2 separate regions of the Homo sapiens genome follow, and region 1 is linked to region 2. A link means that fine-mapping ties the variant in region 2 to the expression of a gene that starts in the linked region. Tissue or cell type: lung. Region 2 holds a variant in brackets; the other region holds the start of a gene. All regions are shown on one strand. Distances are from middle to middle.

Region 1 (8,407 bases), 260 kb after region 2:
TGAACGCACTTAATGCCACTGAGTTGTACATTCAGAAGCAGTTAAATGGTCAATTTTATATAGTGTGTATTTTGCCACAATAAAAAAAAATGGCTGTAGGAGGAAACATTTTAGGAAACTTTCAAGTTGTCCAAATTATTTGACTCTTCCTAGTGAGAACGTGTTCATGAAATACTCATGGGGAAAAGCTAAACACATGAAAAGGTTAGGAAGAGAAATGTGCATTGCTCTAGGGAAGGAAAGAGAAGGGGACAAAGAGAAAGAAAGGGAGAAGGAAGCAGCCAGGAGCTACAAGTGGGAGAAGAAGGGTGTGAGAAGGCCCTGAGAGAACAGAATCCTATGGGGGGGCTTTCTCAGTTCTCCGGGTGAGAGGTGTGTGCTGTACCTACCTCTGCCAGCCAGCCTCTCCTGAGAGAGCTTCCCTTCACCAATAAACAAACTCAGAAAAATCTCAAAAGCTTATCTCATTTCAGATGTTGCTTTTTAACATTCCCTGCAAATCCCAATGAGGAGCCGCCAGTCACCCAGAATGCTCCTGCTGTCACAACAAACAGCACACCTGGTCAGATGCACAATAGGACAGGGGCGGGCACAGCAGCCAGGATGCTCCCGGAGTCTGAGGACTTAGCCCAGCAGGCTCATCCTTGGGAGAGAGAAAGTCACTCCTTAGAAGAGGAACCTGGGCTGTGCCTACATTGCCCCTGGGAGCCGATGGCCAGCACCCTGGGAATGAACTCCTCCTCTGAGGAGAGTGGCCACCCAGTGTGTGTAGGAAGTTGCACAACCTCTTTTGGAGGAAAACTGTTTCCTGAGCTCTTATGCCCTGGGATTGCCTGGCCCTGTACAAACTTCTCACTATGTACACACAGCACTCACCACTACGCTGCCACAACCCTCTCCCCTACACCTACTTTAACTGCAAAGACCTGTTTGGGGTAAGGTGGGGACAAGCCACAGGAGATCTGGCATTGCCTCAGAGAGGAGGAAGTTTTATTTCTCATCTCCTAATGTTCTATAACATTTTACATTAGGAGAATGTTAAAACATCCAGAAATCAAGATCGCCATCTTCTAACATGGGCTAAGGTAAAATCTGATAGTACAATATGAACTTTCAAATAGATAGATATCAGAATCTTTAACCATTTGGGGAAAAAATATGAAATGTTGTTCATGCCATTACTACAACTCTGAACTATAAAGTAAATAAACAAGAACTGGAAAGAATGGAAAAGTGTTTGTCAGGGTAATGGGATTTTTGCTTTTCCCTTTGCGTGCAAGTGTGTTTTGGTATCCCACCACAACCAGTGTTTACTCCATGCCCACGCAACAGTTTTTCATTCAAGCTTCATAACACAGCAGCATTGATATTATCTGCATTCTGTAGATGAACAAATGTAAGTCAATAAGGGGGAAAAAAAAATCCAGGACAATGGTCACACAGGAAATAAACTGCCACACTGGACCCCTTATCCAGGCATGCCTTTCCTCTGTCCCTATGGAATTCACAAGGAAGTCCCTTCTGCTTGCCTCAAATCAGTAGTTTGGTTATTACAATTTTGTTCCGTCTTTTAAACTGCAGTTATCTAAACTGAAAGACAAAGAGGTGATAGCCCAGGAACAAACTGAAAAGACTGAGGAATATAGGAGGGGATGTGTGTCTAATCAGATGCGACTGAACTCAGTATGACTTAAAGCAGCCGTTCACAAACATTGATTTTAGGAACTCTTTGCACTGTTAAGAATTATGAGGTCCCAGCACTTTGGGAGACCGAGGCAGGCGGATCGCTTGAGGTCAGAAGTTCAAGACCAGCCTGGCCAACACGGTGAAACCCCATCTCTACTAAAAATACAAAAAATTAGCCAGGCGTGGTGGTGGGTGCCTGTAATCTCAGCTACTCCGGAGGCTGAGACAGGAGAATCGCTTGAACCCAGGAGGTGGAGGTTGCAGTGAGCTGAGATCACACCACAGCACTCCAGCCTGGACAACAGAGTCAGACTCCGTCTCAAAAAAAAAAAATTATGAGGTCCCCAAAGAGCTTTTATTTGGGTGGGTTATATCCACTGATATTTCCCGTATTAGAAATTAAAACAGAAAAGTTTTCAAATGTTTATTAATTCATTTGAAAATAACTAATAAATCTATTAGTGTATTTTATGAAAATAACTATTTTCCAAAACAAAAAAAGTTAGCAAGAAGAGTAGCATCGTTCTATATTTTTACAAATCCCTTTACTGTCTGTCTTAATAGAAAGCAGCTGTATTCTCATGTCTGCTTCTATATTTTTTCTGCTGGAATACTACACATCATGTGGTCTCTGGAAACTGCCACTGTACATTAGTGAGAGAATGAGAGTGAAAAAGCTAATAACTTTTTTTGTATTACTATAAAAACAGTTTGTACTCATGAACCGCCTGAAATGCTCTTGGGTCCCCCCAGGGCTCCCTGTACCACACTTTGAGAACCATAACTTAAAGAACTATGTATGAGAGAGAGGGAAAGAGAAGTCGGCGAGACACTGATGGATATACCCACCATCCCACACTTCTCACTTTTCAACTTTCAAACGCCCCCAACTCCCCACTAGGTAACCTCAGTGCAGGAACCCCAGATTCTCCAAGGACAGCCTGACGTTCACTCAAGCCATCTCCTTCCCTCTCATTTCCGCAAAATAAATTAAACGAGGGCTAAGTGGGCATGGCTAACCAATTAATCCTCCACGGGCACATACTGACATTTTTAATAGGGCCTTTCTTAAGCTAGAACTCCAAAGCATGCCTCCAACTGGGCTTTTCAGACTGCTTGAAATGGGTATGAGAAAGAGAGCCCACAGGAGACACGAATGCCGAGTTCTGGTCCTGACTGTCCGGTGACTGAACCATCTCTCTATCTCCAGTGCAGCTCAAGCACTCAACCCTCTGCCTGCTTCTCAGGGCTGTCCTGGCATCGGATGACATCGAGGACCTGAGTTCTTCTTATAACCAAACCGCCCCGCTGAAGCTGCCCATTCCGCACACCTGCACTCCGAGGGGGTCCTGTAAGCCTGTCCCACCCCGACGCCCAGACACGCCCTGGACAGGGCCACTCCATCCCTGTGCGCCCATCCCATCGCGGTTTTCTGTCCCCTTCTCCCCACCAAGGGTGGGACATCGCGGGGCGGGGACTCAAGAAACAGGTTCAACAAACCAGCAAGGCCGATCTTCCAGCCACACGGTCTTCGTAGACACCGCGCCTGTCACCGCGGGGCCCAGCCCTGCACCCGACTCTTCGTGGGGGAGGGAGCTCGGGAGGAGAGGGCACCTCTCAGGGGGCCGAAGAGGTCGGCGGCGGCCGGCTGCGCCCACACACCTGGGGAGGGGAGCCCGTCACCTGCGGCGAGGCAGGGACCCGCCTCTCAGGCGCGGCGCACACCCCACCTCGCCCTCGCCAGGGCGTTGTCCGCAGCGACGCTCCGGGGACCGAGGGGACACGCTCGGCGGCTTCGGGGGCGCGGGCAGGGGCGACGGCCGCAGCGCGGTACCTTTGCCGGAAGAGCGGGCGCCGCCGAGGAGTCCGCGCAGCTCGTTCTTGAGGCTCCAGAAGTCGCCGTCCAGGTAGCGGTGCAGGGAGGAGTCCCCGAGCCCCAGACCCGGCGCCGGCTGCATCGCGCTCACCTGCCTCTGCTTCTCCGCGTGGCTGGCAGGGCCGGCTTCGCTCCGCGCCTCCTCCAGCTCCCAGCAGGTGAGGCCCCAGGCGCACGCCCTCTCCCTCTCCACCCCTCCCGGCCCGTCTCCTCCCTCCTCACCTTCCTCTCCCCTCCCTCCCCGGCCCCGCCCTGCCCTGGCTTCCCGGGCGGGAGGTCCGGCGCGAGCGGGCGCTTCTACGGTGGCCTCCCCTTGCCCTTCCGAGGAAGCGAAAACTCTACCCTCCAGTTATCAACTGTCCCTCAAGATTTGTGAGCCGTAAGAAACAAGTACTAGACCCCTAGAAAGGGTGCCAGTCACGTGGACCTGGGCACCAGAGGCCCGGCTGCTCAGGACTGACCGGCTGACCCACTCAGCAGATCTCCCGGCCAGCCACTTTGCCTGACCCCCACGACCCAAGATAGCCTGGCTCCAGCTCTGGCCCCTCCTCAGCTGTATCTCACCTCTTCCCCGCACTGGGCATTACTGTGAACTCTAATATCACGGTAATCTAAAGGCGTCCCAGGTCTACAGCACTGCAGTCCAGGGTAGCTGGAAGCTGCATTCATGACGAGGTGATCGACCGGAACACGATACTCATTTCCCAGGACACTCCTTTTTTTGTTGTGGCTGGAGGAAAATGAGTTATAACCTAAGTGGAAAATGTTCCTTCCTTTCTGCTCCCTAATTCTCATATACCTTGTTGATTCTCCTTTTAAATACTCAAGGAAATGTTAGCCGTTCCCTTCCAGAGGCTACTTTGCTGGGGAGATGATGGTGTGGTCTGCTGTCGTGAGGTTAGTGGATGCCATCTGTATTCGTTTCCAGTAACAAATTCCCACAAAGTGAGTGGCTTAAGATAGCACCAATTTATTCTCTTACATTTCTGGAAGTCAGAAGTCCAAAATAGGACTTACAGGGTTAAAATCAAGGTGTTGGCAGAGCTGGGTTCCTTCTCACAGCTCCAGGGAAAAATGCATTTCCTTGTCTTTACTAGCTCCTAGAGGCTGCCTGCATTTCTTAGCTCCTGGCCCCTTCGTCTGTCTTCAAAATGCATCACTTCAAGCTCTGCTTTCATCGTTCCATCTTCTACTGACTTTGACCTTCTTGCCTCCCTTGGACTTGTTTACATGGGACCCATGGGAATAATCCATGGTCAATGGGAATAATCTTCCCACCACAAGATCCATACTTTAATCACACCAGCAATGTCCATTTTGCCATATCAGAAACACACTCTCCGGTACTAGGGATTAAAACATGAGCACCTTTGGCGAGTCATTCCTCTGTCTACCACACCTGTGCAGCTGCGAGTAATAATACCCAGTCATCCATGATAAAAGGGGCTTTGTTTTCTCACATCACAGGAAGCTTGGTGGTAGGAAAGCCCCAGGGGTGAATTTGATGGCTCTACCCTGGGGACCCAGGTCCTTTGCATCTTTCTGCTCCACCATCCGCCATCCTTTCTCTATATGTAATCGTTACCTTTTTTTTTTTAACTTGTCTTCTACCAGTTGTAAGATGGATGCTGCAGCTCCAAGCACCACCCTGTGCAAAGCAGAAGAGGAGTATTTCCTTCTATATCAGCCAAAATAGTGTAGTGGTAACAAACAACCCCGAAACGACTTCACATACACTTCCTCAAATCTTAGGGCCTAAAAAGACAAGAGTTTATTTCTCACTCATGCTACCTGGGGGTTCTGTTCCATGTCCCCTCGGTCCAGGTCCTGGCTGACAGAACAGCCATGATTGTGTGGCCACACTGGCTTTTAAAGCTTCCAGCTGGAAGAGACACACATAACTTCTACTCACAATCCACTGGACAAAGCAGCTCACTCCTGTCTCGATGGGGGAAGGGAGGTACCACCCTGGACATGCCCAGGAGGTCAACACCCAAAATCATCTGTAAGCAGAGCTAGTGACTATTCAATCTGCCCTTCTGGTCACACTCTCCCTTCCACAGGCAAAATATACTCTCCATCCTTCCAGGGAAGCAGCCAAAGCCCCACACCTCCACAACATCAAGTCTGAGGCCCCTGGGGGATACAGAGTGGTCCTTGCATCAAGTCAGGATGTGGCTCCTCTTGATCCGGAGACCTATAAACTGAAAAGATAGGTTACTAAGTTAACTTCCAAGTGAGTGTTTGCTTGAGTGAGAAAAAAGAAAGGCCTCTGTTCTTAGAAGCCACTAAGATTTTTGTTGTTGTTGTTGTTGTTTCTTGACGTGGAGTTTTGCTCTTGTTGCCCAGGCTGGAGTGCAATGGCATGATCTTGGCTCACTGCAACCTCTGCCTCCTGGGTTCAAGCGATTCTCCTGTCTCAGCCTCCTGAGTAGCTGGGATTACAGGTGCCCGCCACCAAGCCTGGCAATTTTTTGTATTTTTAGTGGAGACACGGTTTCACCATGTTGGCCAGGCTGGTCTCAAACTCCTGACCTCAGGTGATTGTGATCCACCCACCTCGACCTCCCGAAGTGCTGGGTTTACAGGCATGAGCCACCGCACCCGGCCAACCACTAAGATTTTTTTTGAGGGTCATTTGTTACGTAGCCAATCATAGAAGATACTAAAAGAATGTTGCTGATTAAATAAAAAACTAAAATAGGTACATTGGCTTAGAGGCTGGGAGGGGCAAGGAGGATGCTGTCGACCAAAGCATTGTTGTTGACCAAAATTGAAAATGGTCCCTTTTATGAAGAGGCAAATATTTGACAAAGTTGCCACTGACAGGAGACAGACCTAACTTGGAACTTATCACTCCAAGAGAAGTTGCTGAAAACACAAGGTTAGTATTGCATGTTGGCTGCTTTTGCTTGTGTTTGGCAAGACATTATAAGAAAGAGATGGGCTTACAAAAGAATTAACCAGTTTGCAAGCAGGGATGGAAGGGAATAGAGTCCACAAGTTCAGGGACTTTTAGGGTTGGGAGAGGCAACTGCTTCACGACTTCTATTAGTAAAAGATGAAACTGAGAAATATTTAGTAACAAAAGCCCATTAAAATTCAGGAAACTCAGACTCTACTCCCTTGCCCCTTGTGGCAAGAATAGAATCAAGAGTCTCACTTGAAACCTGTAACAAATAGGTTTTGTGGATTCCCAGTAAGCCATCTTACTCCCGGGCCTTGTCCATCTGAGCAACCCCCATCTGAAGCATCACTGGTCTCTGCGTCAGAGGATGAGAGCACGGTTTGGATCACCCACGGACTTGTAAATGTACACCCAGAAGTGTCAAGCGTAATCTAGCCTGTCCTGGAAGATACCTCAAGAATCTGTTTACAAGCCACACCTCTCTCTAAGAGCCAGAGAAGTGTAATCCTCCCAGGCGCCCCCACCAGCCAACGCTAAAGACTACCACACTCCTGTGAATCTTTTGTTACTAGGAAAGAATAGCTGACAAAAGACCCAGTAAAATTGCCCTTGGGCCATCTTGGCTTAACTAGGTCCCTTGACCACTATATTATTTTCCTACAGTAACAAATTACCAGAAACTTGGTTAGGTAAACGGCAGAAATTTAATTATCTCACAGATTTGGAGGCTAGAAATCTGAAATGTTCAGCAGCGCCTTGTTACTTTTGAAGGCTCTAGGGAAGAATCCTTCCTTGCCTTTTTCTAGATTCTGCTGGCTCCCAGCAATCCTTGGTATTGCTTGGCTTATAGCAGCATCATTTCACACTCTGCCCCATCATCACATGGCCTTCCTTTCTGTGGGTCTCTATGTCTTCAAATCTCCCTCCTCTTGAAGGACATTGGTTGTAGAATTTAGTGCCCTCCCTAATCCAACATGACTCATCTCAACTTGATTACATCTGCAAAACCCCTATTTTCAAAGAAGGTCACTTTCTGATATGAACGTTTAGGGAACACTATTCAACCCAGTATACCCACCCAGAACTAACGGGAACTGACAAATGAGAAAGAAATAAAAGGAAGTGACCATATACTGGCTTAGATCAATGGTTTCCACACTAAGTGTGTATCAGAGTAACCATGAACACAGACACACAAATACACACGACTTGGCCAATCGATCCAATTTCTAGAGGTAGGCATCTGTAGTTTTTAAAAGCTCCTCTCCACCCCAGGTGACTCTACTATTGTGCAGCCAGGGCTCAGCCCATGGGCTTAGGCTCAATGGTTCTTGATCTTGCTACGCAGGGGATTACTACATTATTGGGAAAATTGGTGAAATTTAAGCAACATGGATAATATAATACTGTATCAATGTTGACTTTATGGTTTTGATTATTGTACTGTGGATATTTAAATGAACGTTCTTGTCATTAGGAGCAAATTCAAGTAGTTAGGGGTAAAGGGGCAACTGACTCCAAATGAGTCTGAAAAATATACACAGAGAGAGAGAGAGAATAAAATGTGGCTCCCTGGACTATCTGTGTTACGCAGGACTTTCTCTTACAAGTACAGTCACACACCACATAACAATGTTTTGGTCAACAACAGACTGCATATATGACATTGGTCCTGTAAGATTATAATGGAGCTGAAAAATTCCTATCACCGCATGACATCATTGGTGTCGTAAAGTCATAGCCCAACATATTACTCACTTGTTTCTGGCGATCTGGTCAACAAACTACTGTGATCAGATCCATAGAGCCCAGGTTAATAAAAACACAAAACTTCTGCACTACCAGTTGTATAAAAGTGTAACATATACAATTATGTACAGTAGTGCATAATACTTGATGGTAACAGTAAATGATTATGTTATTGGTTTATGTATTTA
Region 2 (8,407 bases):
ATAGAATAGGAGCAGTAAAGCCTTCTCCTGGGGTTCCATTGGCTATTCTGTGCCGGATCAGAAGATGAAACAGATATTGCTAGGGTGGACAGTGATCCCTCAAACTAACCCCACTGGCACTGTACTTGGTGGAAATTTCCTCTAGATTTCTATCAATGCTGACACAAGGTTTTATGCTTTTGCAGAGCTTTACAGGTATTTTAATAGGAGACAGAATGCATCTTAGACTAACCCAATGTTAATTTTTACATATGCCTGAGGCAGTTCCCCTCCCTGTCTTAGAGAACGATGTACTCTTTATACACATAAAACAATGATTTTTCAACTTTGATAAGGGCTGAAAATTACACCACTCATCAACTCCCATGGCAGCCACATGATGCCTGCAGGTGGAATTCTACAAGATGACATAAAGGGGGTTAAACAGAAGCATCCTGGCCTCTAGAGCAAGCAACGGTATCATGCAAAATGGCCCGTAGGAACTCTAGCCGCTTCCAGGAGCTTGTCATTAGGCTGACTCATCCTCTACTAAACTTAACAGATAGTTCACCAGCAAGGATATCCCTTAAACACATGTCAAAAGGAAAAATATAACACAGTGTATCTTTACCTTATAATAAATTCTGGCCACCAAACCCCGCTGAAGAACCCTTTCACGAAATTTCACTGCTTTCAACAGAAAGGCGAGATCATCAACTGTGTCCATGTTAAATGCCAGGAAACTGAAAGAAAATCACGGTGACCATCATTATTATTTTGGCCTCACCAAGAATTTCATTTGAAAGAAATAGAGTAGGTTTGTTTTTTAAAACTATTTTTTTCTGTAGAAAAATAGTGTCAATAGACATAATCTCCCCATCCCATCTCTCACTGACTGTATTCATAATTCTTTTCGGTAATCTTAGCTCTAGTTTATTCTAGGTGGTTGTCCTTGTGGTATAGAGATGATTTGGTTTCCTAATTGTTCCACTTACTATTGTATTATAAGTAGTGTTCAATATTTTACATAGTCTTTCTTAGTTAACAGCAATGTAATTTCTGTCAAGTATAATCAACCATTATACAATTCATGTATAACTCAATCATTATACAATTCTTTTTTTTTTTTTTTTTTTGAGACAGAGTCTCACTCTGTTTCCCAGGCTGGAGTGCAGTGGCACGATCTCGGCTCACTGCAACCTCCACCTCCTGGGTTCAAGTGATTCTCATGCCTCAGCTTCCTGAGTAGTGGGGATTACAGGCACATGCCACTGTGCCTGGCTAATTTTTGTATTTTTAGTAGAGACAGGGTTTCACCATATTGGCCAGGCTGGTCTTGAACTGCTGACCTCAAGTGATCTGCCCACCTCAGCCTCCCAAAGTGCTGGGATTACAGGCATGAGCCACTGTGCCTGGCCCCCATTATACAATTCTGTCAAGTGAGTTTATAATAATAACTCAACCACTATACAGCTCTATCAAGTGAGTTTATAATAACCACTGCTGGGCATTTATTATAATTATTATAATTGGATATTAATAATCAAATATATCTATTACAAAATATTTATCAATTAATAATACTTATTAAATATATTATATATCAGGAATTGTGTTCATTATCTGCTGTGAATTATTCAATTTTCTCGATAATTCTAGAATACTATAATTATCCAATGTAGAGTTTAGGAAACTGAGGCTTAGCAAGATTTGGTAACTTGCTCAAGGTCACACAGGCAGAACTCAGTCAAGCTCAGGTTTTGTTGGGGAACATCAGCATTTAAAGCAAGAGGCACCCTGGAGGGAAGTGATAGGGCTGTGTGCAAGCACAGGGGAGGATGTGCTACAGAGATGGTAGCTTTCTTCAGCAGGCAGCAATTCCCATCTTTCCCATTTGGCAAATGAGGAAACTGAGGCACAGAGGAGTTAAGAGAGGTAAGCACAGACTCAAAACAACCAAGTTCACAATTAAAAGCTCGTGAGCTTTTCATCATGAAACTCTATTTCATGCCAATTTTATGGACCCACCATGAACCTTTAGATAACCTAGACAACCAGGGGAAGGGTTAATTCACACTTAGGGTTTCCCATAGCACAGCCACCTCTTGCCCTCCCCTTTCCCCACTTCCTGAGGAAGTAAGTTATTACAAGACTCAAATAACTTAAATTCATATTAACTAAAAAAAAACCCAAGTGGCTGTTGTTGCTCAATCAGAAGGCACGAGAGAAACGTTAAGAAGCAATTGACGCAGTGCTTTTGAGATGCCAAGTGCTGAATTAATAATCACCCTCCATTTAGACAGGGAAGAGGAAAGTATTTACATGCCAATTACCGGGACATTTAAAAGATGTCAATGTTTATTCTGAATCTGGGCTTTAAGAAGTTTGGGTTTCTGCCTCAGTCTATTTAATGAAAGATGTAAAAAGCTTTCATATATTATTGAAAAGTATGTTTTAGTCATTCCAGGGGCTGATATTGGAAATTAGCTTCCCTGGAATTCAGACTGTAGAACATGTTTGTCCACCTGAGATTGTGAACTGCACGTGCTGCAGGAAGGGGATCTCACCCACTCGCTGAGTCATGTGAGTCACATGTCATGTAGGTCTAGGAGCCTGCCCAGTGCAGTAGAGTGTGCAGACTTTCTTTAAAAATAGAAACATTGCTAAAGGCAACCTCCTTGTAACTGTGTATTTTACAAGAAGATCCAAATGACTCTATTTTTAAATAAAGTTTAAATTAAATTAAAATAAGTATCATTAGACATCAGGGAAATGCAAACGGAAACCATAGTGAGGTAGCATTATACATCCACCAGAATGACTACAATTAAGTACACTGACATCAAGTGTTGCCCAGGATCTGGAGAAACCAGAACTCTCATGCTTGCTGATGGGAGTGTAAAATGGTGAAATCTCTTTGCAAAATGTTGTCACAGTTTCTGATAAAAATAAATGAACACATACCCTATGATCTAGCAGTTTCACTCCTACTAATTGCCTAAGAGAAATAAAAACATATGCTCACAAAAAAGGTTATACAAGAATGCTCATAGCGGTTCTACTCACAGAAGTGAGAAACAGCAAACATCCCAGGTGTCTATTCATCCATAAGAGAATGATTCTACTATATCCATAAAGTAAAATACTACAATAATGAAAAGAAACAAACTAATACACACAACAACATGGGTGAATGTCAAAAAGTATTATGCCAATTTCACGAGGCAGCTACAAAAGAGTACATACTGCCTGGTTCTGTTTATGTGAAGTTCTAGTATAGAAAAACTAATCTGTGGTGGGAAAATATCAGAAGAGTGGCTGTATCTGCGTAGTGAGATTGTCCAAGAAGGGGCATGAAAGAACTTTCTGGAGTGATGATCTGTATCTTAATATGAGTTTGGTTACATAGGTTTATGCATGTGTCAAAACTCAGTGAATGTACACTTAAGATTTGTGCATTTTATTGTACGTAAATTCAACATAAGAAGAACTATAACTAAATATGTAACTGTAGTTAATGACGCTCATGCTAAATTATTTAGAAATGTGCTGATGTCTACAGTTTATTTTGAAATGGATCAAAAAGAGAAGGTGAATGGATGGGTGAGTTCCATACACAGATCCATAGATATGATAGTGATATAGCAGGTACAGTAATAGGTTGATAGAATCTCCATGGTTTGTACATAAATGCTTCCTGTAAAATTATTTCAACTTTGCTGAATATTTGTAAATTTTACAGCATAATGTAGAAAAACACGTTGGGTGCAAGGCAAAATCTTGACTTTCCTGGACATCTACCACCACCTCCTAAAGGTCCACAGGCTGATGAGAGTGGGAGGGGCCCCAGTGGCAGGCTACCATGCAGGAGGAAGAGAGACAACCCTTGCAGGGACAAGCCAGAGCTGAATGGGGCTATCTGCAGAGCCAGGTACAACCCCCTTTCAAAGCCACTTCCTTTCAGGGCTCCTCTCCCTGCCATGCTCCATCTGCCTTACCTCGTCCCATGGAGGCTTTTCAGTACCATGACTGACTCCTTCCAGGCCGAAATGAGGGGTAGTTACTGTGCGGACAAATGGGTGCCCACTGGAGGGATTTAAGGGTACCAGGAAGTTCTCAGCCCATCTTTCCTCAGGTCCCCACCTGCTCAAGAGTACCT[T/G]TCTCAGGGCTGTCACTATGCCTACTATCCTACTGCTCTCGGAGTGCAGACTCCATGAAGACAGAGCCCCTAGTAACTGCTGATCACCAATGCTTAGAGAAGTGCCCGGTACACAGTGAGTGCTGAAAACACTTTGATGACAAAGGCTTTCCTTCATATAAAGTCAGAGTAAGTAAAGTTTCGGGATTTAAGTAGATAAACACAGGGACTGAATCAGTAAAACCTAGATGTGTGGGAGACAGATGTACACTGTTTTGGAGGTTAATAACTGAGACAAAAATAAATGGACTGGAACTTTCCAAATATTTACATTTGGAATACTGCCTTTGGCACATCTCAACTCTGTGCTGGAAAATGTGCTAGGGATATAGATTTGCATATGGGTGAGAGCGTGTCGTGCTTCCAAAATGATGGAATCAAGCCCTGCTTTGCTATCTGAAAAAGAAACGAAAGGGCAGATGATTTGTGGCCAGTTGGGGAACAAGTTTCCTGCAAGGATGGAACTGATTCTGGTGGGGAGTCGTACTATTCTTTCAACTCCTTAATATGTTGGACAATTTTCAAACTAATACATTGGAGGAAAAAGCTAACCATACTGTAAACGTCCTACTCAACAGCTAGAAATATTAGGAAGACCCACTAGCTCTAGTATGAAGACAAATGGAGACATTTAAACTAACAGAGACTCCAGTGAAACAGTCCTAACATGTAGGAGCTCGTGTTTTCAAGCTTTAAGATGGACCACAGTTTGAATAAACAGGGTCCTGAGCAGCAATAAAAAAAGGAAAAAAAAAGACAGATAACAGATTTCTCAATTTCACGTCATCCCAATGGCTATAAAGAATCCCAGGCCATCATTTACTGTGTTTTCCATGTGTTTAATCAGGATTGTGAGATTCTATTTTCTAATGAATAGTTTCCTTAGAAACTAGTTCAATACTTTTGGTTTGAGGGACCAATAATCTCATTCAAAAAAATAATAATTAAAAAATACACAAAAGAAAAAAGCATAACAAGCTCTCTAAAAGTATAATATAGGAGACAATACATTCATGAGCATAAATCAATGAAATAGAAAAGAAAGGTATGACACAAAGGATCAAAGGGAAAAATCAGTTGTTTGAAAAATAACAATAAACCAGTCAAACATCTGAATGAGACTGAGCAACAACAACAAAGAAAGGAGAAAGCATAAGAAGGCATTTTAGGAATGACAAATGAGACACAACTACAGATCTAGCAGAAGTTAAAAAGGTAATGATAGAATAGTACACATAAAAACTTATACCAATAAAATCAAAACCAAATGAATAAATTCCTAGAAAAATACAATTTACTTAAACTAACATGAAAAGAAAAGCCTAGGCTTTAAACAATTAAGCTAATTAAATAGTTTACTCGCCAAGCCCGGATTATTTTCAAATTTGATGAATTATCAAATTCTTTCACAGAATAAGAAACCACTCCCCCCAAAATAACTCTATGAGAGATGTAAAACTTTGACATAAATCTAAATCAGGCATGTACAAGAATGGAAAACCATAAATATACAATCTCCTCCCCCTAAAAAATACTAACAAGCCAAATCCAAGAAAATATAAATATGATAATACAGCATAACAAAATTGAGTGTTTCTTAAGCATGCAAGGGTAGTTTAACATTAGATGATCGGCAAAAATTATTCACCAAACTAACAAAATGAAGAAGAAATATATGATCGTTTCAACAGATGCAGAAAAATATCATTTGATAAAATTAATCTGGTAATGACAAAAATACATTTAAAATGTATAAGCTTCTTTAGGAAGTAAAGTGTGTCTATCAAAAACTTCAGCACTCCAGCCTGAAAGACAGCACAAGACCCTGTCTCTAACATAATAAATAAAATCAGCAATAAGACAAAAGAACACCTTGTAAGATGGCTTCTATTCAAATTGTGTTGGTGGTCCTAGCTCTTGCTGTGAGACATGAAAAGAATAAAATAAATAACAGTTGGAAAGGAAGAAATAAAAATTTATAATTTGCAAATTAGTGTCTATGGAAAAAAACTCCAAAGAATCTACAGACACATTTAAAAGAAATTTCTTTACAGTCAGATTTATAAACAAAAGCCAATTGCATGTATAATAAATCATTAACTACAAAAATCATAATTTAAAAATATTCTTTTAACAACAAAATTATAAAGTAACCAGTAATAAATCTATGAAAGGATATAGTATGTATGGAAAAAATTATACAACCCTGAAGGACACTTTGAAGATGAAAATCTTTGAGAGGAAGACCTGCTTTATAAATATGTCAATTTTCTGCAAGTATATAGATTTAATATATTTTCAAAGAAACTTTCAGCAGGTTTGCAGGCCTGTGATAACAAATAACAAATGGTAAATAACAAAACATTTACCATTTTAATTTTATTTATTTATTTTTTTGAGACGAAGTTTCACTCTTGTTGCCCAGCCTGGAGTGCAATGGCGCAATCTTGGCTCACTGCAACCTCCGCTTCCTGGGTTCAAGCAATTCTCCTACCTCAGCCTCCCAAGTAGCTAGGATTACAAGCATGTGCCACCATGCCTGGCTAATTTTATGTTTTTAGTAGAGACGGGGTTTCACCATGTTGCCCAGGCTGGTCTCAAACTCCTGACCTCAGGTGATCCACCCGTCTCAGCCTCCCAAAGTGCTGATACACGCATAAGCCACTGTGCCCAGCCCATTTTGACTATTTGTAAGTGTACAGTTCAGTGGTATTAAGTACGTTCACCCTGTTGTACAACCATTACCACTATTCATCTCCACAACGTTTTCATCTTCCCAAACTGAAACTCTACCTATGAAACAATAACTACCCATTCTCTCCTCTTCTTAGCCCCTGGGAACCAATATTCTACTTTCTATCTCTACGAATTTGACTACTCTAGGTATGTCATGTAAGTACAATCCTACAATATTCATCCTTTGTTTTACTTCTAAGAAACTTGACAAACTTATTACAAAACTTACATGAAATGGCCAAAGATTCTGAACAGCCAACCCAATTCTGAATTACATTTCTGATATAATAATACTATAGTAATATTTTATTATAAAGCCAGAGTAATTATAACAGTGTATTGTTGGATCAAAAATACACAAAGAGACTAGGAACAAAATAGCCCCAAGACAAACTCTCAAATAGACGGAGATTTAATAAATGTCAAAGAGACCTTGCAGGTTACTAGAAAAGAATGTCCAATTCAGTAAACGGTGCCGGAACAACTGACTGTCCACAAAGGAGAAAAATAAAATTAGATCCCTTCCTCAAACCATACACAAAAATGTGTATGGATTCAATAATTAAATGTAAAAGGTGAGACTTTCAAAGTTTTAAAGATATAGATTTCATGACCTCAGAATAGATGATGCAGAAAAAGTGTTGGATATAAAAGAAAAGATTGATAAGTTCGACTATAATTAATGAATTTATCTCAATCAAAACACACGATAAAGAAAATATAAGACAAGCCACAAACATAGAAAAGATAATTATAGCATTTGTAACAACAAAGGATAAAGAGCCCTTAAAAATCAATAAGAACAAGACACACACACACACACACACACACACACACACACACAATAAAAATAGGCAAAAAACATGAACAGGCATTTTACACAGGAAGAAATACAAATGGCAAACAGACATGTGAAATCATGCTCATCCTTAATAGTAATTGAGAAAATTCAGTTTAAAGTCAGGGTGAGAGATCATTTCTTATATTGTATTGACAAAAATTAAGAAGTCTGATAGTACCAAGGGTTGGTGAGAACAGAATAAGGCCCCACAAGATACATGCTGCTAATGGGGGTGTAAATTTATACAACCACCTTGAAAAATAATTTGTCACTATCTAGTAAAGTTGAACATTACTCCATAGCACAGCAATTCCATTCCTAGGTAATATATACCGTAGGGGAGTGTTTTTCAAACAACAGATTGCAAATAACTAAAAGGTCATAAAATCAGTTTAAGGGTTGGGGTCAGTATTTTTTTTTTTAGGCAAGGTCTCACTCTGTTGCCCAGGCTAGAGTGCAGTGGCATGATCTCAGCTCACTGCAACCTCTGCCTCCCAGCTCAAGTGATCCTCCTGCCTCAGCCTCCCAAGCAGCTGGGACCACAGGCATGTGCCACCACGCCTGGCTAATTTTTGTATTATTTTTGTAGAGACAGAGGTCTCACCATATTGCCCAGGCTGGTCTCGAACTCCTGGGCTTGAGCAATCCTTCTG

The links. PIP is the estimated chance that this variant, and not a neighbour inherited with it, causes the effect.
Region 1: it holds the start of ACOXL, and the variant in region 2 is the best candidate, but not a certain one, in a credible set for the expression of ACOXL in lung (TOPMed, PIP 0.77).

The regions. Positions count from the first base shown.
Region 1 is chr2:110,727,888-110,736,294 of GRCh38, reverse strand. ACOXL (acyl-CoA oxidase like) reads right to left here and starts at 3,722. Exons shown (of 18, transcript NM_001142807.4): 1 at 3,521-3,722. It overlaps LOC124906064 (a long non-coding RNA gene), which reads left to right and starts at 3,870. Exons shown (of 3, transcript XR_007087181.1): 1 at 3,870-3,941; 2 at 4,391-4,459; 3 at 4,660-4,934.
Region 2 is chr2:110,988,208-110,996,614 of GRCh38, reverse strand. It overlaps ACOXL (acyl-CoA oxidase like), which reads right to left. Exons shown (of 18, transcript NM_001142807.4): 14 at 611-722. Among named protein-coding and RNA genes, the nearest start is that of ACOXL-AS1, 120 kb to the left of the region's middle. The variant T/G (reference allele first, on the strand shown) is at 4,139.